7 linked regions of the Homo sapiens genome follow. The protein of the gene in region 7 purifies or fractionates together with the protein of the main gene of each other region. This does not show direct contact. Each region holds a gene or a part of one and is shown on either strand. Other genes may lie near its edges.

Region 1 (4,057 bases), on a different chromosome or scaffold from region 7:
TTGCTCTGTCGCCCAGGCTGGAGTGCGGTGGCGCGATCTCGGCTCACTGCAACCTCCCCTCCCGGTTCACGCCATTCTCCTGCCTCAGCCTCCTGAGTAGCTGGGACTACAGGCGTCCGCCACGACACCCAGCTAATTTTTTGTATTTTCAGTAGAGACGGGGTTTCACCGTGTTAGCCAGGATGGTCTCGATCTCCTGACCTCGTGATCCGCCCACCTCAGCCTCCCAAAGGGCTGGGATTACAGGCGTGAGCCACCGTGCCCGGCCTATTCATGTTTTTCATCTTGGTTTTTATATGTGCCAAAAATAAACAGTCTGAGTTTACTTGTGGTTTACATGGTCCTCTTATGAACATCAGCTTGCTTAAACTTAATGTTACAACAATAACAAATATTTGCTTTTTGTCAAGGGAAATGCTTAAATTAAATCGGTTGTTTATTTTGAGACAGAGTCTCAGTCTGGAGTACAGTGGCATGACCAGGGATCACTGTAGCCTCGACCTCCTGGGCTCAAGCGATCTCCTCCCACCTCAGCCACCTGAGTAGCTGGGACTTCAGGTATGCGCCACCACAGCCGGATAGTTTTTGTATTTTCTGTAGAGACAGGGTTGCCCAAGCTGGTCTCTAACTCCTGGATTCAAGCGATCCTCCTCTTTGGCCTCCCAAAGTGTTAGGATTACAGGTGTGAGCCACCATGCACGGCTTTAAATTATTTGAATGCAAGCAATAAAAAAAAGTATTGTAGAAATAAAAAGCCCCAAATTTCAGTTTTAATTTATTTCCTCTACATTAAGAGAAGGCTGTAGAAAAGTGAGGAGTTTAACAACGTATTTCAGTTTACTGATATCCTTGATAATATGCATTTTAGGGAAAGCACTATAATTTCACATTTTACCATAAAATATATGTAATACATGTCATTAGTGATGCGCTGAACACCTCACATTGTTCCCAATCTTAAGTCATTCACTACACTCAGATTTAACGAGTCATGTCACAAAAAGCATGCCTGTAATTTGACTGCTGACACCACTTGTTTTTCATTTTCAAATGTAAGTTATATAAGCAAACATATACTCAGTGTCTGTTTTGGGCATAGATACTAAGGACACTACAGTGTCTCATCTCAATAAAATCACAATCTAACTGGGTAAGGAGTTAAAACTTTCATCCGGAAATGAAGAGTTCAGTATACGTTCTCCACTAACTTCCAGCCCTACAATCTTCCAAGCAAGCTTAAAAACAAAGCCAAAACCAACCAACCCAGCAAACTTTAAAATGTTACTTCTATTTTGAAACAAATTACACTAAACTTTTGAGAAGAGCAATGAAAAATCAAAAAGCTAACAAGTTTTTTGCCTATGTCAGGTTAAACAAAATTAGAGCACCTTTCAAAAATGACACTAGTCACCTCTAATTTCACTCTAAGACAAGACAGCGTGCTCAAAAAGCCCCAGGCGATTTTTAGACGTTATTTCGAATTGGATTCTCACTTTTTAATGCAATGCAAAGTCAGGAAGCACAATAAACAACAGAGAGAACGTGCACGCGGATGCGGCAGCACAGTTCACCCGGTCCGGTCTCCGTACGGGAGACAACTCTTTCTCAAAAAGGTTAAGTGGCTGTCCCCGGTCACAGCTGTTAATGCAGTACCAACCCTCAGATCTGGGGCTCTCACCTCACCACTCCTGCCTCCATCTCTTACAAACGCTCAGATGGGCGACTGTAACTTTCTGACGACCTACCGAGGCACCGCTCTCATTCAAACCCCACCGCCTAAGGTGGCGAGTAACCAGTTCTACGTTTCCCACCGGGGGAGCGAGACTCAAGGCCGCCGTCGCGGAGCAGCAAAGCGACAGCCGACAGCCCCGCCCGCAGAAGGCCGCGGGAAGGACGGCAAGAGCAGCGGAGACAAAGCAGCGAGGCGAGGTAGCTACAGGCCACAGCGGCGAACGCGCACGGCGGGGGAGAGCGCGGGCCGCCAGCGAGGCGGGGAAAGCTCGGACCGCGGACACCGACGGATGAGGCTGGGGCTCGGCGCGGTGACAGTTCGGGGCTCACGCTCGGCAGGGACACCGCGGCGCCCGCCCCGGCGACGGAAGCAGCGGCGGAACGCGAGCCTCGGCGCTCCGCACACTCACCACTGGGAGCTCCGTAATGGCGGCGGCGGGGGCGGAGAACCCGGGGGGCGGGCCCGCCGCAGCCAGTCACCGCCGCCGGCATCTTTCGAACCGGCTCCGAAAACCGCTGAGGGAGTGGGGTGAGGGGAGGGCGCGGGCGGACGCCGGACCGCGGCGGGCCTCGGAGCATGCGCAGCCCTCAGCCAATCGGGGCGGGCAGAGGACGCCGACGCAGGCGCGCTGGGACGCAGGGTCGCACGGCCAGAGAAGAGCTCCCCCTCCTCCCCCAAATCCAAACAAAACAAGGGCGGGAGCGCGCGCGCCGGAGGGCCCCTGAGGAGGAGTCCACCAAAAGGGCAGGGGGCTAGGTCGCAGGAGAGAGGAAGGGAGCGGGGCGGAGCGGCCGGGTAAGGCAGACAAAAGGCGCCACCTCCGGGGACCCGGGCGCCCCGCCCCCTCCTCTCTGGGAGCGGCGTCGGCGCCCCGGGCGAGCGGCCTCCGCCACTCGCCTTCGGGGCCCAGCGAGCCCGCGCCCACTCCCCGGCCGCCTGTTCGGTCCTGCGTTACCTCTGCGTTCGGCCGGTCCTGGCGCCCGCGTCCCGCACGGCCTCTCGGCGCCGCTCCCGCCGCCGCTAGTCGCCTCCGCCACCGCTGTCCTCCAGTCCCAGCCGCCGAGCTCTGCCGCCCCGCCCCCCTACCCGCGGCCCCGCGCGCGCCCCCGCCGGCCCCGCCTCCCGCGCGTGGGGTGCGAGGGGGCGCGCGGGGACGGGCGGACGCCGGCGGAGCGCGGGGCGTCGGCGCGCGTTCCCGGCGCTGCGTGGTGGCGCCCATTGCCTTGGCGTGGCGGGGCGGTGTCGGTTTCCTCGGAGGGGCGCCGCTTTCCCCCGCTAACCTTCGCTTTCTGTGCTCTCCAGGGCAGTCCCTTCTCTTAACTGGGTTTCCGCTTCTGCCACTCGTCCGCCTTTAGCGGGGCTAGCCTTTCCCGCTTCTCAGTTTAGGCGCAGCTCAAGAGCAAACCTTTTTTTGAAGACCGTAGAATTGGAAAACTAGAGAGCGGAGAATTCACTGCCTCGCACTCGCTCCCATTAAGTCTCCAGACGGTACAGGGCAGAGTAGTGACTCGGGACTCAGAACTGAAAAGTTGAAACGGGCTTTCCGGGCTCCCTAATCCTCACATGCAGGGAGAGTTCCCCAGAATGAAAACCCTGAGATTAGAAGACGGGATTCCCTTTGAATTGTCATATTGCGTTGCTATCAGCGTACTTAAACAACGTACATACGAAGGAAAAGTACAGCTCTTCAAAGCTAGTTTGGAAAGATTGTTTTTAAAGTTTCAGGTGTTGGGGGACAGGGGAGGGACTGGGTAATAAATGTAAGGAAATACCAGTAGAATTGTCCCAAGCTTACAGTAGATGACCAGTACTCAAACGTATGTGCCAAGGTTTATAAAGACTTACGACACCATTTAAGCACTCACCCAGTCGTCTGGCCCTGCCATTAGCATAATTGTCTCACCAGCTTTCCCTGCCACAGCCACCCCACTCTATCAGTTCAAATTTCACAGCCAGCATAAAAAATTCTTTACGAGGTGTGCGTTATCATTCATATCCTGATGGCATTACCAGTCTTTAGTACTCTGGTGTCATATTCCAGCTGTTCAGAAGGGGTTTTGCTCTTTTATGCCATTCTTCATTCTGCTCACTCCCTTCGTTGTTAACGTTTCTGTTGTCTTCCTTTTCAAAGACTTCCATTTTTATGTATTCGTACATTTAAAACATCCTACCGTTCTTCTTTTACCCTAAAATGTCTTTAGACCCATCTCATGTAAGAAGCAGACTCAGATGAGAGCAAACTGGGAGATGTTTCCTCCTCCACAGATTTTTGCTTAAAACAACAACAACAAAACTTAGGCCGAGCATGGTGGTTTACGCCTGTAG
Region 2 (3,500 bases), on a different chromosome or scaffold from region 7:
GTAATTTTAAAAGACTGTGGTGTCTCTAAAACATGAATACGCCGGCATTTAGGTAACATGTATCTACAGAATCATTTTTAAGTCTAGTAACAAAAGCAGCAATTCCTTTAAACAAAAAAAGATCAACAACTTTTGTTACGTAGGCACTAGTAATAGCTTTCAACTTTAAATTCCATGTGCACTTCTTGGATATGCCAAAAAATATTTGTCAATGAAGGAGACTGCAATGAAGGAACTGTTGAAATTCTGCTTCTATAAGCTTCAATAATATTTAAAATGCTGAAGGTCATCAGTTTAACACTAAAACTTCACTAGACAAAATACAGGTATGTTTCTGATTTGCCCAGTGAAAACATGGTACTTCTTAGGAAAAGAAGTGTAGGCGTCATCAGTAACTATAACCATGAACACTGGAGTATCTAAGCCTCTTCTGCCTGATAGCAAATGGGGCCCAGAGCTATCCTCCCTCCTCCTGAACCTTGACAGCATCATGTCCTAGCATAAAGGATCCCCCGAACTCTATGATGACGTCTGTGTACTCGATGGCCTCTGTAAGCAGTTCTCGAGTGGGATCTCTAGACCGGCACCATCAGAGCTACCTGGGAACTGGTGAAAAATGCAAATTCTAAAGTCCCAACCCAGACCTGTTGGATCAGAAATGCTGGTGCTGAGAACCAGCAATTGGGCTTTTAACAGCCCTCCAGATGATCTGATTCACATTACAGTTTGAAAAGTACTAGCCTGTGTCTTCCCCATGTGATGAATTTCAGTGCACTAATAAAGGGCTATTTTAATTTAAAATAATTTGGGGAAGGTGCTCAATGTCCTTTCTTACAACTCTGAGCAGATAAAGCTTCACATTAAATAATTTTCACTAAACCAAATATGAAAATATTCTTTTACCATGCTCTACACCCTTTTCTTTGATCATACTCAGGGAAAAACCAAAAGTGAAGAGTCAGTTACAGGTTAATTATGAAAGCTTTACATTATTCAAGTCTTATTCCTGTACATACGAAGAAGAATTTTTGTTTCAAAAAAATTTTAGGTAAAATTACTTCTGAACTTTTTCTTGATTGCACCACCTACAGATAAGCTCTCCAGATCTCATGTAAATCACTATGAATGGTAAAAAGGAACAAAGACATAACATACATTGAGATATTTTTTGCAAAGCACTCATATTACGTATATACACACCTGCATAAAATAAAAGGACTCAACCCCCTCAAAACCACAAACTGTTTTTTCCTACCATTGCAATAGCAATGCGGCCGAGCTCTACGACACGGCTGCTGCAAGACACAGACACAAGCACGAGCACTTACAACTGTACCTTCTGTGCTCACCGTGTCAACCACAGCATTGACAAGGTGCATTACGGTCACTATGGAAGCTTGCAAAAAGGTACAAAAGCAGTCAATTAGGAACATCTTCAGTTAGTTAGAAAACAGTGCATGAAATAAAGTTTTGTATTATACCATTTCTACCTCAGATTCCAACCGATGAGTGCTTTAATACAACCACATAATGATGCGTGGTCTCCTCACTGTTAGCTGTGTGTCTCAGAGACTTTTTTAATCGAGCTATATATTTGTTATTATTAATCAAAGGAATAACGTAAACATATTTTATTGGAATTTAAACAAAAAAACTTTTAGCTTTAAATTTTTTCACAATTACAATTATGCATCATGCCAGGCCAAAACGATTCTTATTTTAACATCTTACAGGCAAGACTCGACATTCCAAGACTACAGTCTGTGGTTCGCCACTCTTCCGGCTGCTTAATCACTCACACATTGTCCCCCAAAAAAAAGAAATTGAAGGAGAAACATATGCAATCTAAAACAAGAATGTTTTTGTCCCTGTTCTGATTGCTTTCCCTGCAAATTTCTCGTCTGTTTGCAGATGGACTAATCGCTGGTGAGCTAATGTACGAGTATAGGAGGAGACTCTGTCCGTCTGTTTCCTGTGTAAATTCCCTTTTCATTTGTGTATCAGATTGTTTTAAAATAACTATGCCAAGGTAAATATGTACGCATGTGGTAGGCAGAAGGCTGGCCCTCAAATAGTCCACGTCCTAATCCCAGGAGCCTGTGAATATGTCACTATACATGGCAAAAGGGACTTTGTTGACGCGGTTCAGATAAGGAAATTGAGATGAGGGATTTCCCTGGATTACCTGGGTGGGCCCAGTGTAATCATAAGGGTAACTTTTCTGCACAGAGGCGTTCCCAGTTACGGCTGGGGGGAGCTCTGCTGACAGAAGGGTGGTCAATGAAACACTGTGTTGCTGTCTCTGAGATGGAAGAAACCAAGAGCCAAAGAATGTGGGCAGCCTCTAAAAACCAGGAAAGGAAGGAAAACAGGTTCTTCCCTCGAGCTGCAGAAGGCAATGCAGCCCTACTGATCGCATGACTTAAGCCCTGTGAGACACAGGGGTTGGGCTTCTAAGCTACAGAATGACAGCAACACAAGTCTACATTGTTTTAGGCCACAAAGTTTGTGGTAATCTGTAATGGCCCTGGAAAACCGGGAATACGACGCAGGAACAGACTCTCAGCAGACTTTCAGTTTACAACTGATAATTACATTATGGTAATGAGTAAAATAAAAACACTCCTGTATATATGTTTTTTCTCTGCATTGTACTATCTGGAAGCTAGTTTTCATAACTAATTTGACCATAACTTATTGAAAGCACTTGGGACTATTTTTTTTTTTGAGACAGAGTCTCGCTCTGTCGCCCAGGCTGGAGTGCAGTGGCGTGACCTCAGCTCACTGCAAGCTACAACTCCCGGGCTCAGGCCATTCTCCTGCCTCAGCCTCCCCAGTAGCTGGGAGTACAGGTGCCCACCACCACGCCCGGCTGATTTTTTTTATATTTTTAGTAGAGACGGGGTTTCACTGCCAGGACGGTCTCGATCTCCCAACCTTGTGATCCGCCCGCCTTCACCTCCCAAAGTGCTGGGATTACAGGCGTGAGCCACTGCGCCCGGCCACCTGGGACTATTATTAAGAAGACTGATGTTCCAACAACAAGAACTAGAAAGAAAATGCTGATAAAATTCTGAAATGTATTTATAAAGAGCATTTAGGGGCCAAGATATAAATTATTACATAAACTGGAAACAGGAACTTCTTAGAATTAAAATTGATAAAAGACATAATTCTATCTTGTTGGTTTAACAAGCAAAGCTATGTCCATACACCCTATTCCTAATCAACACAGGTATATTTTGATACCATATATACGGTATCAAAATATACCTGTGTTGATTAGGAATAGAGTGTGTATATATATATATACTTGAAAGTATATATATATATATATATATATACTTGAAATCAGAAATGATAGCACATACTTATAGCTATCTTTAGTTTGAAAAATGACTGCAATAGATAATGACTATATGGATTTATGGACTATATGATGTATTATGGACTATATTACTCTGGATTGAATAATTATTAGTGGGGTTACCTTTTCCCAC
Region 3 (3,500 bases), on a different chromosome or scaffold from region 7:
TTAAAATTTCATTTTAATCTTAAATGATTAAATAATTAAATTGAATCTTAAAGATTAAATTTCATTTTAATCTTAGTTGCCATATAAATTTGCCTTCAGGCATTCCATTATGGTTTACCTGAAACAAAGTAATAGAAAATAAAATTATATGCAAAACAATTAAAGAATTAAACCTTAAGTTGCAAGAAACTTAATGGTATTTCCTGTTTAACAGGTTAATTTTCAGGTTTGTTCTATTCCTGAGGGTTATCTGACCTAGAATTGGGGAAAGGTGATGGGGAGGAGGCAGGGGAAGAAAAAACAAAACAAGGTTTTCCTCACATGCTAATAGCTATTATTCAAAGAATAAAAGGGGAGACAGAACTAACATTTATTAAGTACCCACTAGGTTTAAGAGTGCTTAAAAAAAGTCACTGTGCCAAGTGAGACCACGCATTTTATTTAATCTTCCTCATGATCCATTAAAAGTAGAAGTATCCTCATTTTCCAGATGAGTAAGGCTCACAAGTGTAAAATGATTTGTCTATAGTCACTTAGCTAACAGAGGCAGAAGGGGAAATTAAATCCAGGGCCTCTCTAATTCTGAAGCTCACATTCTACCCACTATGCTATGCTGCCTTCACTACAAAGGTAAAGAATAAAAGCTTTCTAAAAATTATGCAAATTTTTAGAAGACTTACAAAACCATTTAAGCTAAGAATGAGATATGTGAATAAAAAAGAGTGAAAGACTTGGTCCTAAAAGAAACTTGCAGTGCTTCCCAAATAAGAACAGAAATTATGTGCTAGATAAGAATAAACAACTGGATTTAGACTTGCCATTTTCTCCAAGGACATAAAACCAAGCTCGATTATTCATTCCTACAGCCAGATGATAAAGACCTACTGCCACAAAGTTGGGTTCCACATCAACAGAAACTGTGATTGGTAGCTCCTATAATAAAGAAAATAGTAATAAATCAACGGCTAAACTTATTTTATTAATAAATAAAAGAAAAATAACACCATTTTCATACTCCTTCAACAGGGTTGGCTACGGTGACTTCAAGGAGGGAGGTGAGATAGGCAATCCTTGTGCTGCAGGCATCCCCAAGTATGGGAAGCTTGGTCAGGAAAACATGAAGTGAGCCCCTTTGGGTAGAGAGTGCTAGCAACTGGCCATCATCAGTCCAGGACAAGGTACCCAATCCTGAAATAATCGACAAAATAAATGATTATTCAAAAACAATATATAGTTGCAGGCAGCAAACAAATATTTTCATTTAAGCTACCAGAGACATAACAATTTTCAAATATTTTCCTTACTAGTTTAAGTAGTTTTTTTTTTAGACTAGGAAATTTGCCATGGATTGGCATAAGAATATGAGCACTGGCTCATTCCCTGTGGCTCAAAGGGAAAGTACAGTTATGTGTCACTTAACAACAGGGCTATGTTCTGAGAAATCTGTCATTAGGTGACTTTGTTGTTGTGTGAACATCATAGAGTGTACTTACACAAACCTAGATCAAATAGCCTACTACGTACCTAGGCTATATGGTATAGCCTATTGCTCCTAGGCTATAAGCCTGTATGGCATGTTACTGTACTGAACACTGCAGGCAAATGTAACACAGCAGTAAGTACTTGCACATTGAATCATATCTAAATATAGAAAATGTACAGTAAGCCTGAGCAACAAAACAAGACGCTGTCTCAAAAAAAAAGAAAGAAAGAAAGAAAGAAAGAAACAAAGAAAAGGTAGTAAATATGGACCATGTATGTGGACTGAAACGTCATTATGTGGGTCATGACTGTATATAAGAATTTATACTTTACATTAGAATTAGGATAAAATTCACTATAAATCTCTGGATCAAAGTAGACATATCTTTCTAGTCAAGCAGTATGACAACATAATTACTAAAATAAGGAGACTATTTTAGGGAACTCTAGTGAAGAGTATTAAAATTTATTTCTGGCCAGGCACAGTGGCTCACGCCTATAATCCCAGTACTTTGGGAGGCCAAGGCAGGCGGATCACCTGAGGTCAGCAGTTCGAGACCAGCCTGGCCAACATGGTGAAACCCCATCTCTACTAAAAATACAAAAATTAGCTGGGCGTGGTGGCACGTGCCTGTAATCCCAGCTACTTGGGAGGCTGAGGCAGGAGAATAGCTTGAGCCTGGGAGGTGGAGGTTGCAGTGAGCAGAGATCATGCCATTGCATTCCATCCAGGGCTACAAAACAAGAATCCATCTCAAAAAAAAAAAAAAAAATTATTCCTCCTACAACGAATGCAAATCACACGATAACAAACACAACCTTACTCTCTGTAACTGGAATGATAAAATGTCAATCTGCTTCAGAAAAATCAATACCTTTATTTTCCTCATCCAGGTTGAGTATAACATACATGTCTTTTAAGTCAACCAAGTCTTGGATTTTAATGCTGAAAAACAAAAATGCATTATTAAAAAATATATATGATCTTTATATAAAACTGTTTTAATTCACAAAAAATTACAAACCATGGAATAGGTTACTGGTCTCCAAAATGTGATGTACAGAATGATCTACTGGGTTAAGAAAATATTAGAATTTCTGTACTTCATTATATTTTATCTTTAAACTTTTGGGTTTGTTGTTGTTGTTTGTTTGCTTACTGTGTGCAGAGATGGGGGGCGGGTAGGGTTGTGCCTGGCTTAATCTCTGATCTATAGCTTCAGGAATAAGGAGGTTAAAATTGTCCTGAAGAAATTTGGGTACGAAAATATTCTCCTGAGTAGTATTAATTATTGTAAGATGATACAGGTTTCTCTTTACAATGTGTTCCCTTTCTCCCCTGCCCAGAGTTCTTTCATACAAAAGGAAGTGAATTATAGTATAGAAAGAACATTAAATTTGGATCAGAAGGATCAGGTTGAAAGCTCTGAAAAATGCGGGCATAACATTATTTCATAAGGTTGTAGTAAGAATAAGTAAGTTGATGTAAATGAAAGTTGTGTAGTACAATGTTGGGAACTAATAGTTGTAACATTTCTTTCCTCCTAACCTCCTTTTCTCCTTCTCTTCTCTTCCAGTGTTTTCCTCTTACCTTTTTTCCCTCATTATTTTCATTTAATTAAACTTTTAAGATAATTTCAGATTCACAGGTAGTTGTAAGAGGCAATATAGAGAGATAGAGAGATTCCATGTCCCCTTTTCTCCCAATAGTAACATCTTGAAACACTATAGTATAATACCACAATCAGGATACTGACATTGATAGAAACCACAAATCTTATTCCGACGTCCCTAGTTTTACTTGTACTTAGTGTGTGTGTTTACTTGTACTCAGTGTGTGTGTTTAGTAACTTTCTCACACATGAGATTCATGAGACTCACAACCATAGTCAGGATATAGATAGTTCCATGACCACAAGGATCTCTCATGTTGCCTTTTTATAAACACTCACCTCCTTCCTTCTGACCCCAGCTCCATCTCTAACCTCTGGGAATCACTAATCTGTTCTTTGTTTTTA
Region 4 (3,500 bases), on a different chromosome or scaffold from region 7:
GTAGAGACAGGGTTTCTCCCTGTTGGTCAGGCTGGGCTCAAACTCCTGACCTCAGGTGATCCACCCACCTCGGCCTCCCAAAGTGCTGGGATTACAGGCGTGAGCCACCACACCCAGCCCTCATTTTAAGAAAAATTTTACATTCTTCACTTGAGAATATGTCTTAGGCCGGGCATGTTGGCTCATGCCTGTAATTCCAGCACTTTGGGAGGCCAAGGTGAGAGGATCACTTGGGCCTAGGAGTTTGAGACCAGCCTGGGCAACACAGTCAGACCCCCATCTCCACAAGAAAAAAAAACAGTAATAACCCACAAATATATATGAAGTAATAACACATTTATATTTAAAAAAAAAAAAAAAAAGAATATGGCTGAGCATGGTGGCTCACACCTGTAATCCCAGCACTTTGGGAGGCCGAGGTAGGTAAATCACCTGAGGTCAGGAGTTCGAGACCAGCCTGACCAACATGGAGAAACCCCGTCTCTACTAAAAATACAAAATTAGGCTGGATGCCATGGCTCATGCCTGTAATCTCAAGCACTTTGGGAGGCTGAGGAGGGTGGATCATGAGATCAGGAGATCGAGACCATCCTGGCCAACATGGTGAAACCTCGTCTCTACTAAACACAGAAAATTAACACAGGTGTGGTGGTGGGCGCCTGTAGTCCCAGCTACTCGGGAGGCTGAGGCAGGGGAATTGCTTGAACCCGGGAGGCTGAGGTTGCAGTAAGCCAAGATTGTGCCACTGGACTGCAGTCTGGGTGACAGAGAGAGACTCTGTCTCAAAATAAAAATAAAAATAAAAATACAAAATTAGCCGGGCGTGGTGGTGCATGCCTGTAATCCCAGCTACTGGGGAATCTGAGGCAGGAGAATCACTTGAACCCGGGAGGTGGAGGTTGCGGTGAGCTGAGATCGCCCCATTGCACTATAGCCTGGGCAACAAGAGTGAAACTCCATTTCAAAAAACAAAAAGAGAATATGTCGGCCAAGCATGGTGGCTCACGCCTGTAATCCCAGCAATTTGGGGGGCCGAGGCAGGCAGATCACGAGGTCAAGAGATCGAGACCATCCTGGCCAACGTGGTGGAACCCCATCTCTACTAAAATACAAAAATTAGCTGGGTGTGGTGGCAGGCACCTGTAGTCCCTGCTACTTGGGAGGCTGAAGCAGGAGAATCGCCTGAACCCAGGAAGTGGAGCTTGCAGTGAGCCGAGATTGCGCCACTGCACTCCAGCCTTTCCACCCTTAGTAGCCCAGTAAAAAATGGCATCTCCGTGAATTTTGATATGTATTTCTATCATGAATAAAGCTAAGCATTTTATATTTGGGAACCACCCATATTTCCATTTGAATAAACTGTTCCTGGCCAGTCACAGGGCTCACATCTACAGTCCCAGTGCTTTGGGAGGCTGAGGCAGGAGGATTGCTTGAGCCCAGGAGTTCAAGACCAGCCTGGGCAACACAGCAAGACCCTGAGTCTATGAAAAAAAATTTAAAAAATTAGCTGGGGATGGTGGCACACTCCTGTATTCCCGGCTACTCAGGAGGAAGGAGGATTGCTTGAGCCTGGGAAGTTGAGGCTGCAGTGAACCAAGATGGCACCACCACAGTCCAGCCTGGGCAACAGAGCGAGACCCTGTCTCAAAAAAAAAAAAAAAAAGGCTAAGATGGTAAATTTTGTGTTCTGTGTGTTTTTACCCCCCACCATAGGTGAGTGCACCATTCCCTGTGTATGATCAGATGCCAGCGTGAAGGATGGCGAGTCTACACTTGCGGACCTCCTGGGTGTGCCGTATGTGAAACCTAGGGCAGGGGGCACCCACCGCAGCCTTCCTGGAGAACTCATAACCAAGCAAGCAGCCATTCCCACAGCCTCTGGGGACAGGAGACCTGAGCCGTGGTGCCTGCGTGGAGCCGAGCCCAGGCCCCGCTGGCCCCGTACCTTCCTGGCAGCCAGCAGCAGCTCTACCGCCCTCTCGTACTGACTGTGCTCGATGAAGAAGTCGGAGCAGCGGGCCAGGAGCGCAGGGTCTGACGTCTCATCCAGGTCCTCTGCTATGAGCTGTAGGGCCACAAACTGCTGGGTGGCAAAGGCCAGCTCCAGGGCCTTGGAGAAGTGGCCAGCCTGCGGATACGGTGGGCTCTGAGCAGCTGCCCGAGGCCTGGGGGCCCGAGCACGGAGGCCTCGCACAGGCAAGGGCCCCCTGGCTTGCTGCCCCTCCCCCAGGTCCCCACCGGTGGCCAGCCCTCACCTTGTGGTACAGCATGACCGCCCTGTCCATCTGCACGCCCTTCTCCTCGTAGTATCGGGCCGCCTCGATCATGTCCTCGGGGGAGCTCAGCAGGGCCAAGTTCATGAGCTGGTCGTCCAGGCCGTTCTCCTGCAGGGAGGGAGGCAGGGCCCTGAAGCGGCTCCCACTGGCTTCCCCAGGTCCGCTGAGATTCTGGAATGTGGCCGGGTGCGAACCCGCCCCTTCACTTTGACACACTGCTCAGCGATCTCTGCGGTGATGGGTTTTAAGGAGCTGATGACTTACTGGGTTTGTCTACAAGGATTTTCCGATGCTCTGGGTTCTATTTCACAGAGCACTGCAAGAAATACCTGACACGGGAGATGCTTCTGGAAGCGAGAGCCCAGGTTGGGACATTTGTGTGGTGCAGAACGCCCAACAGCTATCTAGGAAGGGTCTGCCGTCTGCAAGGCCATAGGCCGTGAGCAGCCTCACCACCCACTCAGGAGCCCTGGAGCCTGGGAAACATCTGGGGACAATTCAGTGCTTTGCAAACAATGTCAGATGGAAGCGGCCAGGGGTGGGCAGAGGGGTGGGCGGGTGAGGCAGACGGGGTGAGCAGTGAGTGGCAGACACTGGCCGGACCACGTGTCACTGACACGATTCTCTCTGTCCACTTTTCCACTTGAAGCTCTCCTCAGGGGACCTCGAGAAGCGCCGGCTCCCCACCCCGGGCCCGTGGTACCTTGCACAGGCGGATGGCATTCTTGAAGGCCTGTGCCCGGGTGTAGAAGTGCACCGCCTGCCCGACCTCCTCCTGGCTCTCGTACTGGCGGGCGAGGTGGTAGGAGGCCGCCAGGTTTCCTGTCTCGTTGGCTATTTGCGCAGCCTAGAAAGACAAAGAACCCAAAGACGAGACACGGTGGCCTTGTGTCTGCCTCGTGTCCGCCTGGCCGGCTCCCCTGCGGGGACCTTACCTTCTGGACATTGCCCTGGAAGCAGTGGATGCGGACCAGGGAGAAGTGGTCCCGGGCCAGCTCGTAGTAGTGCAGCGCGGCGTCCATCTCGCCCTGGCTCTCCAGGTACTGCGCCCACCACCGCCACAGGGTCCTGCGGGCAGCCCAAGACCATGGATTCTCCACCCGAGCCCCGCTCCAACCCGGGACGGCCCCCACCCCGCCCCTGTGCCACCCTTAGAGTGCATGTCACCTGACCTGCAAACAGGCTGGGCCAAGAGTGAGGACCCCTGGCTTTGTCCAAAGGGAG
Region 5 (3,500 bases), on a different chromosome or scaffold from region 7:
TTGAAATTCATGTTGCACCGTTTATAGGAGAAAATTTCACCTGTATCTGTTATATCCAAGGTCCTTTATATGTCATCCTGACATGATTACCTTGTGTGCTACCTACTAGCTTTGTGACCTCGAGCAAGTTAATTCACCTTCCTACGTAAGATTCCTCTTTAAAAATAAGTAGTAATAGCCACCTTACAGGGTGACTATAGGATTAAAAACATGGTCAATGTTGCCACCCAACAAATATTAGTTCTCCACTATAATGTTTATCTCTGATAAAGGTGACATGTTTCTTTTTGAAAATATACTAGAGCCTCATCCTGGAACTTCACGACAGCGGCAAACCAGAGTCAACCCCCATTCTCTGCCTGACCCTGAAGTGAATGAGCAGTCTTCCTCCAAAGGGATGTTTAGAAAAAAGGGAGGATGGAAAGCAGGTCCCGAGGGCACGTCTCAGGAGATCCCCAAGTATATAACTGGTGGGTACTCATAAAGAGGTGCAGTTTGCTTGTATTTTGAACTCTCGTGTCTAGTGCAGCAACAAACTGCCCTCCTTGTGGTCCTGGCTCTGCCTCCCCTACCTCTCCTCTCCTCCTCCTACTTTAGACCCTTCTCGCCTCTAGCCTGGACTTTGGCCAGAGCTTCCTTGGGCTTGATGGCTCTCCCTTCTTCAGTTTCTCTCCCTGTCTCTTACTCTTCTTCTTACAAGTCTTTGTGAACTGTTCCTCTTTGTCTTAGCCCCCGTGCCCCTCTTGTTTTAAATATGCCATCCACACTCAGCACAGCATTCTCCAAGGATGGAAAATTGAGTACACACAAATGGCAACCAAACCTTTATTTAAAGGGCCTGTCTCCAGGCCCTTTCCATCCTCTTCTGTTCTTCACCCTATGATCCCCATCCACACTACCACAATTAAACCCTATATTCCTTGTACCTTGTACCTATACCTTAGATATGCTTTCTGGTCTCTCTTTACGCCTTCTTGGTGGAGGAATTCAGTTAAGTTTCCCCAGCAGCCTGTTTATTCTCCAATGTTAATTCAAGATTGGTGTTTAATGACTTTGTCATCTCCTTCAACAGCTTCTACTTTTGCTCAAGCACGAGCTGCTGAAATCAGTGCTATGTTAAAAGCTGTGACCCAGAAGTCTTCGAATTCACTGGTTTTTCAGACTCTGCCACGGCACATGCGACGAAGAGCCATGAGCCACAACGTCAAACGCCTTCCCAGACGGTTACAGGAGATTGCCCAGAAAGAGGTAGGAGTTCCACTTAGTGTAAATGTTTAGATTAGTAGCTCCTAGAAGAAATTGAGAAGTATTGACCTAATAGAATTTATTAAAAATGAAAACCAAGGCTGGGCATGGTGGCTCACGCCTGTAATCTCAGCACTTTGAGAGGCTGAGGTGGTCAGATTGCTTGAGCCCAGGAGTTCAAGACCAGCCTGGGCAATATGGCCTAACCTTGTCTCTACAAAAAAATCCGCAAATTAGCTGGGCGTGATGGTACATGTGTGCCTGTAGTCCCAGCTACTTGGAAACTGAGATGGGAGGGTACCCTGAGCCAGGGGAGGTTGAGGCTGCAATGAGCTGTGATCATGCTACTGTACTCCAGCCTGGGTGACAGTGAGACCTTGTCTAAAAAGAAAAAAAAAACTCAGAAAACATCACCCTTATGGTTTTTGTTTTTGTTTTGCATATATTTGATTTAATCATTATCCAAACTTCTTCCCTTCAAACGAAATTCACAGGCAATTGGCTATTATGGGTGCTTTGAAATATAGGATTTGATACTCCTCTCTTGTAAGGGTGTTGAATAGTTGATGTTCCCTTCCCAGATGTTAAAAAAAAACTCTGACCCTCTTACCGAGTGGTTTTGGATCTGTGTTTCTAGGGTGTGCCCAGCTTGGGGTAGGAAGGTTAAAAAAAAGCAATGTCAATGCTTAGCATTTGCTTTCTGACTTTTTCGAAGTTGAAAACTTGAACTGGGTTTTAATTTTTGTACAAGTCTAATTGTGTTTTGGCTTCACCAGAATTCTAGACTTGAACATTCTAAGATTAAGCCCATGTCTTTACTAATTGGTTTAAAACCTATTTATTGAGCAGCCTTCTATGTACCATTGCTATGCTGGTGGTGGGGTTTGAGTTCAAGAGGGAAAACTAACAAGGAATTTTATACTTTCTAGATTTAATATAAAATCTGTTTCCCAGTGATAGCATTCAGCATGTGTATGTCTGTAGCTTAACTGAGATGAAATGTATGGGTTTTCCTCACTTGTATTATTTTTGGTCTTAAGTTTTTGGTTTTAGTTACAATTCTACAGGTTAAAATGACAACAAGAAGCTAGCATTTGATTTCTTCTTTCTTGCCCTCTAATACTAATAGCCATATTAAGCTTGTGTTACTGTGTTGAACATTTTATAAGTATTCTGATCTTCATATTCCATGAAACTTGCCTAGTTAGTGAGTGATGGAACTGTGCCTCCTTCCTAGGTCTCCTAGCTCTAAAACATTCACTCTTTCCATTGTCTTCCTTCTCTACTTACATTGAAGAAACTAAGTTAACAATTTAAGCAAACTAATGGGATCTATAAAATATTCCACTTAATCTAAAGTTATTTGTTTGCATTCCTGACCGTTAACTCTGTTTTGAGATTCTTACAAACTGGGATATGTCCCTCTACTTGAAACTATAGGCGGAGAAAGCCGTACATCAGAAAAAAGAACATTCAAAAAATAAATGCCATAAAGCTCGAAGATGTCACATGAACCGGACGCTAGAATTTAACCGTAGACAAAAGAAGAACATTTGGTTAGAAACTCACATCTGGCACGCCAAGCGGTTTCATATGGTCAAGAAGTGGGGCTACTGCCTTGGGGAGAGGCCAACAGTCAAGAGCCACAGAGCCTGCTATCGAGCCATGACGAACCGGTGCCTCCTGCAGGTGAGCTTTTCCAGTGGGCTTTTTTTGTTATTTTTGTTTGATCCTTTTCCATAGAGGCCTTTAGAATAGTTTATGATGTGCCAAGCCCCGTTTATGTGATTATTCATTTTAAAAATAATTCCTGAGCATGAAGCCCGGGTCCTTTGCCAGATGCTGGAGATCAGGCAGCCTAAAGTTAGGGGGGTGACTGACATTAATCAAACGATTTACCAGATATGTGGTTGTAAGGGAAAAGCATACAGTATGATGAGCATTTCTAACCTAACTGGAAGGCGTCCCCCAGAAGTGCTGTTTGAGCTGAGCTCTAAGGGATAAGATGGGAGGAGAGGGGGAAGGCAGAAGGAAGCCAGGTGAGAGTGAAGAACTGGAATCAATTCTGTGTGACAGAGAAGAAGAGAAGGAGAACAAGGCAACATCAGGGCAAGGTTAGCCTAGAGAAAAGAGTAGGAACCAGGTCGTGCAGGTCTTGTTGATCATGTCAAGTTTTATTCACTATAGATTAATCTAACAGTCGTTCATCAATAACAGATATTTGAGAATCAACTGTGTACCCTGAACAGGGTTCA
Region 6 (3,500 bases), on a different chromosome or scaffold from region 7:
TCAAACTTTTATTGATTTTCTGTGTCTGGTTATAAAAATAGGAAGGGTCCAAGGCAACAATTTTAGAAAATAAAACCAGAAATCAGTTGGGATATTCCAGCCCAAAGACTGCCACCTAATAGACTGTTCCCCAGTTTTTCACCATTACTAAAGTGAATGCAAAACTTTCGTATCACTGTATTCTTACCTAAGGCTTCCCACTGCCTATAGGATAAAGTATAAGCCCCATTCAGGGAGCATTTACCTACTTTCCCAGTCTTATGACCTGCAATTCCAAGAGTATCATCCTCACAGATACTCTTTGCTAACACCTCTCCCTTTATCTGCTATGCAGACTCCTCTAAATCCTAACACTGCTCAAAAGTTACCTCTTGTGTGAAATATCCCTGGCTTCTCTCCTGTCTCACTGTGTCCTCTCCTTTAGGCCTTTCGTAGCTACCTCTTATAAGCCTGTATTGTTTTGCCCACTCTTAGAAGGTCCTACAAGCAGAAACTGTCTCTTACACATTTTTGTGTTGCCATACCGAACATTATGGCCTGCCACTTATTGGGCACTCAACCTCTGCATGTTGAAAATGTACTTTTAAAATGTTAACTCAAAATGTTTAGAGTTAAGGGGGAAAATATCCTCAATATATTCAAAATGCACAAACATAGGTTCTCAACTAATTCAAATTCCAAAACTTTTAGAAATATTCACTCACTGTTGCCACAGGACACCTGAGAGAGCTAACACCTGATAATTTGTAACCATATAGGCTACTACTAAGTCTACCACTTACCCTCTGATTTTTAAAGAAAAGCATTCCTTAGTCTGGGCTGAGTCGACTGCTTTATAGCTTGTCCCTCAAAAACATAATTTGAGCTAAAGGCCAAATAAAAATATATACTATATGACCATTTATATAAATTTTTTCAAGCATAGCCAAACTAATTTAATGTGTCAGAAGGTAGGATAATGGTTTCCTTTGGGAGCACTATACGGAAACGGTTGGGAAGAGGCAAGAGAAAGGCTGCCGGGATGCTAGAAACCTCTTCTTGACTTGGGTAGTGTTTACACTGGTAGGTTCACTATGTGGTAATTATGACTTGTGTACTTTTCTGTATTTGTCCATAAACTTAAAAAATTTATACTTGAGAAGTTTGTTCTCTAGTAATTGTTGATAATGTGTCTGAATAATTATGTGTTTACTCATAGGGGAAAAATGAAATTGGATTTTATAAAAGGCAAAGTAACTCAATCAGCACAGTGGAACTCTACTATATTTTAATTCATCTTGGTTAAAGAAACATCTAGATCAGGTTTTAACATATGATCCACCACTTTTAGACTTATTACATTGTATAGTCCATCTTAACTATACCATTTCTAATTTCCAGTAAGACAGCTCAGTAGTTAAGGTAACATCCAAAAATTTCTTTCATAGCCATCAACAATTTAAGTCCCCCTGCCCCTTTTTAAAAAAAACTATCAGTCATGCCTGACACAAACAACTGCTTTTCATAATCTTCCCAAATAATTTCTATATTGTTCCATCTTATTGGCCTTTACTGTTTGTAATTCCTGCTTTATGAGAAAAAAATTTCAATAGGGTTTCCTAATTTGTTAATATCTTTTCATGTGGCAAAAATACTAACTCTAAGATATGCTTGTTTTCTCCCAAAAATGTTTCTGTCCAGTTATACCAATGAAATTGGTCCACTTTCCTTTATTAAAGGAAAATTTAAGTATGCTATCAAATTCTCTAGTCAAATTTTAACCTGAGGTTACCTCAGACTGTGCAATGTGTACCTGCACAAACTGAATGTGGTCATCATCACTGCCAAACACCTCAGCCTGTCCATCTAGTAGGTTCCCATCAAGCAGCTTGTGATCAGCTGAGTAGTACAAGGTTTGAACCTGCAAAACAGCAACAGAACACCCATGTGGCTACGGTCACCATGGCTACTCCACTAGTATGCAGATTACACAAACGCCTCAAGGTAACCTCCAGTGTGCTTCTTGAGCTTCTTGACATATTACTCTGGCAGGATCCGGAGGTAAAGAAAAATACATGTCATGGTGGTAAAAATTAAAAAACAAAAACAAAAAACCAAAATCAAATACAAAATCTTCCAATACTGGCTGAAGAGTCGTTGGCTTGATTGGCTTGAAAGAAATCTTCATTTTTTTCATAGCTTCTATCATATAACAGTAAGAAAAAAAGCACTAGTACAATATATACTCTTAAAGAATATACATATTTACAATAAAATACTGAATATAGTTTACACCTTTGCAGATAAGTGGTCTGGTTTGCATAAACATATTTCCTTCCTGTAAGCAATGTCAAGAAAAACAAAGAAAAAACAAATGCAAAAATTCAAGCAAGCTGTAGAGTCATCTCCATTGAGACAGATGCAAATACATGGCAAATGCATCTGACTTTCAAGTGGGAATCATAGAATTTAAAGATAATCTGTTAGCCCTTTTAGACCATAATGATGACAGTGTTTCTGCAGGCCTAACAGATTTGGTAAGCCCTCATAAAGGAACTCCGAAAGGTTTAAGTGGAGAGAGAAACTCAAGGTTACTCCACTGCTCCACCTGCGTGTTTTCAATTCCCACCATTTCTCCATCAATTTTATCTTGTGTATTTTTTTTAAAAGTAGCCCAAGTTAAGTGAGTGACTATATGTATGAACAACACCATTGAAAAACACACAGCTTTAAAGACAAGAATCCTGTAAAGGAGTAAACACCATTAAATCATCATCGTTCTCTGCCCACAGCGGATTTTTCTTAGGAGAACTGGGGCAGGACTGCTGCTTCTTTACGTGTCAATACACTTGAGGTTTCTTCTTGTTTCTTCAGTCTTGGGTATCCTAGTTTTGTTAATAAACCTATGGGGAGATAAATCAATGGGGAGGAACAACCATTAGAAGCTTTTACCTACTTGTCAAATTTAAAGCAAAAACCTGTGAAGAAAAATTAAGAATCTACAGAAAATTTCAGTACCACTTCCCATTTCTAAAGCAAATTACATGCTACTTTAAAGAAAGTTAACAGCACATAATAAGCAAAGAAATAAAAAAAGAAAAGCAGAAGACCAAACTGAACAGTTCATTCAGCTCACCTGGACACCCCCCCTGTTTCTCAGCTTAGGGGTACCTATAGCAAAATTTAAATTCTTTAGGGTCATGGTTATAAAATAAAAGTGAAAGGGAATCCTTCATGTTATAGCAAAATAATTTTTAAAAATGGTTGAATCCCATTTACTTTAAAACTAACCTCTTCCATCAGCTCTTCCAGACTGTCTCCATTCTCCCAGATGCTACGCTGCACCCAGTTGATTACCTTTGTATATAATTTGCCATTGCTGGGCAAGCAAACATTATCTTCAAGCATTACCTCCAACTAGAATTGGGAAAAACAATGACATGGATCAGTGTTGGGCTCCTAGTTCTCAGCTTAATTCCCAATTTCATAATAAAGTTGTCACAGATGCACAATTCATTCCA
Region 7 (3,500 bases):
CATCAGCGGAGGAAGGTCCCCAGGGGATCACACAGGCAAGCTAGAGCTAAGGGCAGCTGGCTGCCAGCAGTCTAGAAACTCAGACTCTGTAACTTCCCATCCCCATCCCCAGCCTGACCTTCACCTGTTTTTTGACTCCATCTGTGCCTTGATTTTCCCATCTGCAAAATGGCCTGACCCTATGGTTTAAAGGTCTTTTTCCCAAAGGAAATGGCAAAAGTACTGTATGGATAGAAATCTACCAAAACCAGGAATGACCTGTGGAAAACGGATTAACGGAGAAAAGTTACAAGGACAGCATCATTGGCAAGAGGAAGGAATTTTCTTTATTTTTCTGTCACCCAGGCTGGAGTGCGGTGGCGTGATCTCAGCTCACTGCAACATCCACCTCCTGGATTTAAGAGACTGTCCTGCCTATGCCTCCCAAGTAGCTGGGATTACAGGCGCATGCCACCACGCCCAGCTAATTTTTGTATTTTTAGTAGAGACAGGGTTTCACCTTGTTAGCCAGGCTGGTCTTGAACTCCTGACCTCAGGTGATGCACCTGCCTCAGCCTCCCAAAGTGCTGGGATACAGGCATGAGCCACCGCGCCCAGCCAAGAAGAAGGAATTGTCTAACAACTGTGGTGCTCTCCATAGGAGATGGATCAATGGTTCTTACAAGTTTATTAAAATGTAGATTCTTGAACCCTACTCCCAGCGTACAGCTCAACATGATTCAGCTGACTATGTGAGGGACTGAACTTCAAGGTACAAAAAATGTAGGGTATGCTTTAAAAAGTCAGGATCAGCCAGGCGCAGTGGCTCAGGCCTGTAATCCCAACACTCTGGGAGGCTGAGGCAGGAGAGGAGCACTTGAGCTCAGGAGTCTGAGATCAGCCTGGGCAACATAGCAAGACCTCATCTCTACAAAACAAACAAACAAACAAAACAAAACAACTAGCCCAGGCATGGTGGTGCATGTCTGTGGTCCCAGCTACTCGAGAAGTTGAGGTGAGAGGATCGCCTGAGCCTAGGAGTTCAAGGTTACAGTGAACTATGATCATGCCACTGCACTCCAAACTGGGTGACAGAGCGAGACCCTGTCCCAAACAGAAAAATAAAAAGAAGAAAAAGGCCAGGGGCAGTGGCTCACGCCTTTAATCCCAGCACTTTGGGAGGCCGAGGCAGGTGGATCAACTGTGGTCAGGAGTTCGAGACCAGCCTGGCCAAGATGGTGAAACTCCATCTCTACTAAAAATACAAAAATTAGCCAGGCATGGTGGTTCATACTTGTAGTCCCAGCTACTCGGGAGCCTGAGGCAAGAGAACTTGCTTGAATCCGGGAGGCAGAGGTTGCAGTGAGCTGAGATCACGCCACTGCACTCCAGCCTGGGCAACAGAGTGAGACTCGGTCTCGAAAAAGAAAAAAAAGAAAAAGTCAGGATCCCATCCCTCAGAGTTCATTTCACAACTAGCAAATGCTTAAGAGAATTCAAGGAATACTGCTGGAGCTGATCAAGTCAAGCTTAAAATGGGAAAGCTGTAGTGGCTGAAACTGAAGGCAATTTGCTTTTCTCTTATTCCCTTAGCCACATATCAGTGTCTAGCCAGGTATGATGGCACACGCCTGTAGTCCCAGCTACTCAGGAGGATTGCCCGAGCCCAGAAATTCAACTCCAGCCTGGGCAATATAGTGAGACCCTGTTTCTAAATGGAAATAATAAAAATAAAACATAAATAATATGTTAATGTCTGTTACGGAAACCAAATAATTGATTAAGGAGATACACCTATCTATCTGCAGGTCACAGATTATTTTCAAAGACACGATTATCAGGGCTGTCAAAGGATGAAATAGATTGGCTTACAAGTGAACTCTTCATGGCTAGGAGTGTTCAAGGGAAGTTTAGAGGACCATCTGTTATGGCTGTGCTATGCAGACACTCTAAACCAGTACTGTCCAAAAGTACTTTCTGCATGAGCCTGTGTGTATATGAGTGAGCATTTGAAATGTAGCTAGTATGACTAAGAAACTGAATTTTTTCTTTTTAAAATCTTTTCTTCTTTTTTTTTTAATATGTATTTTCTTTATAGAAGCAAAGTCTCACTATGTTGCCCAGGCTGGTTTCAAACTCCTGGCCTCAAGTGTTCCTCCCACCTCAGCCTCCTAATCTGCTGGGATTATAAGCATAAGCCACCATATTCAGTCCTGAATTTTTTCTTTTTTAGAGACAGGGTCCTCACTGTGTTGCCCAGGCTGGAGTGCAGTGGCTATTCATAGGTGTGATGGTATTCAATCACGGCCTCGAACTCCTGGGCTCAAGCAGTCCTCCCAACTCAGCCTCCCAAGTAGCTAGGACTACAGGTGAGCACCTTGGCACACAGCTTGAACTTTAAATTTTATGTAATTTTAACTAATATAAATTTCAATAGCTACATGTGAGGCCAGGGCGCAGTGGCTCACACCTGTAATCTCAGTAGTCCAGGAGGCCAAGGCTGACGGATTGCTTGAGTCCAGGAGTTCAAGACCAGCCTGGGCAACATAGCGAAACCCTGTCTCTACTAAAAATATAAAAAATTAGCTGGCTGTGGTGGTGCACACCTGTAGTTCCAGCTACTTGGGAGGCTGAGGTGAGAGAATCATCTGAGCCCGGGAGGTCAAGGGTGCAGTGAGCTGTGATTGCACCACTGCAGTCCAGCCTGGGAAACCAGAGTGAGACGCTGTCTCAAAAAAATAAATAAATAGGCCAGGCGCAGTGGCTGATGCCTGTAATCCCAACACTTTGGGAGGCTCAGGCGGGAGGATCATGAGGTCAGGAGTTCAAGACCAGCCTGACCAACATGGTGAAACCCTGTTTCTACTAAAAATACAAAAATTAGCCAAGTGTGGTGGCACACGCCTGTAACCTCAGCTACTCAGGAGGCTGAGGCAGGAGAATCACTTGAACCCAGGAGGCAGAGGTTGCAGTGAGCCAAGATTGCACCACTGTACCCCAGCCTGGGTGACAGTACAGAGCGAGGCTCCATCTCAAAAAAATAAATAAATAAATAACTACATGTGGTTAGTGGCTATCATTTTGGACAGTGTGGGTCTGAATTTGAGGTCCCTTTGAGTGGCTGAGATGCTGTGAGTCAGCCAAATTCATGTGTGGGTTCTTATAGCTGGTGCCAACTTTGATGTGTCTATTAGGCTGGGATGGGGCATGCTAGGGGTGCCCCTGGGACTGTAAGACACCAGCTCAGACAAGAAGAACTCCTATTTATTCCACAAATATGTGCTGCATATTGGGGATTCACCCATATATGGAGACAGACAACTAAACAGGCAGCTATAGGGGTACATGATCAGGGCGTGAGGAGGTAATTACTGAGGCCTGGAGAGCTAAGGAAGGTGCCTGACCCAGCCCGCGTGGAGGAAATCTCGGCAGCCTTCCAGGAGGAGGTGACATCTATGCCAAAATAGAAAAGTGAATAGTCCAGGCACTGTGGCTCATGCCTGTACTCCCAGCACTTTGGG

Evidence for each region.
Region 1: the proteins of NIPSNAP1 (region 7) and HP1BP3 purify together in Homo sapiens (affinity purification with mass spectrometry; one large-scale study listed by BioGRID and IntAct). This does not show direct contact.
Region 2: the proteins of NIPSNAP1 (region 7) and FAT1 purify together in Homo sapiens (affinity purification with mass spectrometry; one large-scale study listed by BioGRID and IntAct). This does not show direct contact.
Region 3: the proteins of NIPSNAP1 (region 7) and WDR19 purify together in Homo sapiens (affinity purification with mass spectrometry; one large-scale study listed by BioGRID and IntAct). This does not show direct contact.
Region 4: the proteins of NIPSNAP1 (region 7) and IFT140 purify together in Homo sapiens (affinity purification with mass spectrometry; one large-scale study listed by BioGRID and IntAct). This does not show direct contact.
Region 5: the proteins of NIPSNAP1 (region 7) and POP1 purify together in Homo sapiens (affinity purification with mass spectrometry; one large-scale study listed by BioGRID and IntAct). This does not show direct contact.
Region 6: the proteins of NIPSNAP1 (region 7) and IVNS1ABP purify together in Homo sapiens (affinity purification with mass spectrometry; one large-scale study listed by BioGRID and IntAct). This does not show direct contact.

The regions. Positions count from the first base shown.
Region 1 is NC_000001.11:20,784,508-20,788,564, forward strand, and holds the start of HP1BP3 (heterochromatin protein 1-binding protein 3), read right to left. Parts: upstream 2,801-4,057; 5' UTR 2,688-2,800; intron 2,166-2,687; exon of another isoform or gene 1,679-2,165; intron 1-1,678. UniProt on the Homo sapiens protein: Component of heterochromatin that maintains heterochromatin integrity during G1/S progression and regulates the duration of G1 phase to critically influence cell proliferative capacity.
Region 2 is NC_000004.12:186,591,357-186,594,856, forward strand, and holds part of FAT1 (protocadherin Fat 1 isoform 1 precursor), read right to left. Parts: intron 1-3,500.
Region 3 is NC_000004.12:39,213,529-39,217,028, reverse strand, and holds part of WDR19 (WD repeat-containing protein 19), read right to left. Parts: intron 2,429-3,500; coding exon 2,358-2,428; intron 1,189-2,357; coding exon 1,016-1,188; intron 934-1,015; coding exon 819-933; intron 1-818. UniProt on the Homo sapiens protein: As component of the IFT complex A (IFT-A), a complex required for retrograde ciliary transport and entry into cilia of G protein-coupled receptors (GPCRs), it is involved in cilia function and/or assembly.
Region 4 is NC_000016.10:1,521,573-1,525,072, forward strand, and holds part of IFT140 (intraflagellar transport protein 140 homolog), read right to left. Parts: intron 3,345-3,500; coding exon 3,212-3,344; intron 3,124-3,211; coding exon 2,980-3,123; intron 2,385-2,979; coding exon 2,256-2,384; intron 2,129-2,255; coding exon 1,946-2,128; intron 1-1,945. UniProt on the Homo sapiens protein: Component of the IFT complex A (IFT-A), a complex required for retrograde ciliary transport and entry into cilia of G protein-coupled receptors (GPCRs).
Region 5 is NC_000008.11:98,127,293-98,130,792, forward strand, and holds part of POP1 (ribonucleases P/MRP protein subunit POP1), read left to right. Parts: intron 1-302; coding exon 303-470; intron 471-1,072; coding exon 1,073-1,248; intron 1,249-2,685; coding exon 2,686-2,934; intron 2,935-3,500. UniProt on the Homo sapiens protein: Component of ribonuclease P, a ribonucleoprotein complex that generates mature tRNA molecules by cleaving their 5'-ends. Also a component of the MRP ribonuclease complex, which cleaves pre-rRNA sequences.
Region 6 is NC_000001.11:185,303,744-185,307,243, forward strand, and holds part of IVNS1ABP (influenza virus NS1A-binding protein), read right to left. Parts: intron 3,397-3,500; coding exon 3,271-3,396; intron 2,885-3,270; exon of another isoform or gene 2,745-2,884; coding exon of another isoform or gene 2,742-2,744; intron 1,901-2,741; coding exon 1,793-1,900; intron 1-1,792. UniProt on the Homo sapiens protein: Involved in many cell functions, including pre-mRNA splicing, the aryl hydrocarbon receptor (AHR) pathway, F-actin organization and protein ubiquitination.
Region 7 is NC_000022.11:29,564,114-29,567,613, forward strand, and holds part of NIPSNAP1 (protein NipSnap homolog 1), read right to left. Parts: intron 1-3,500.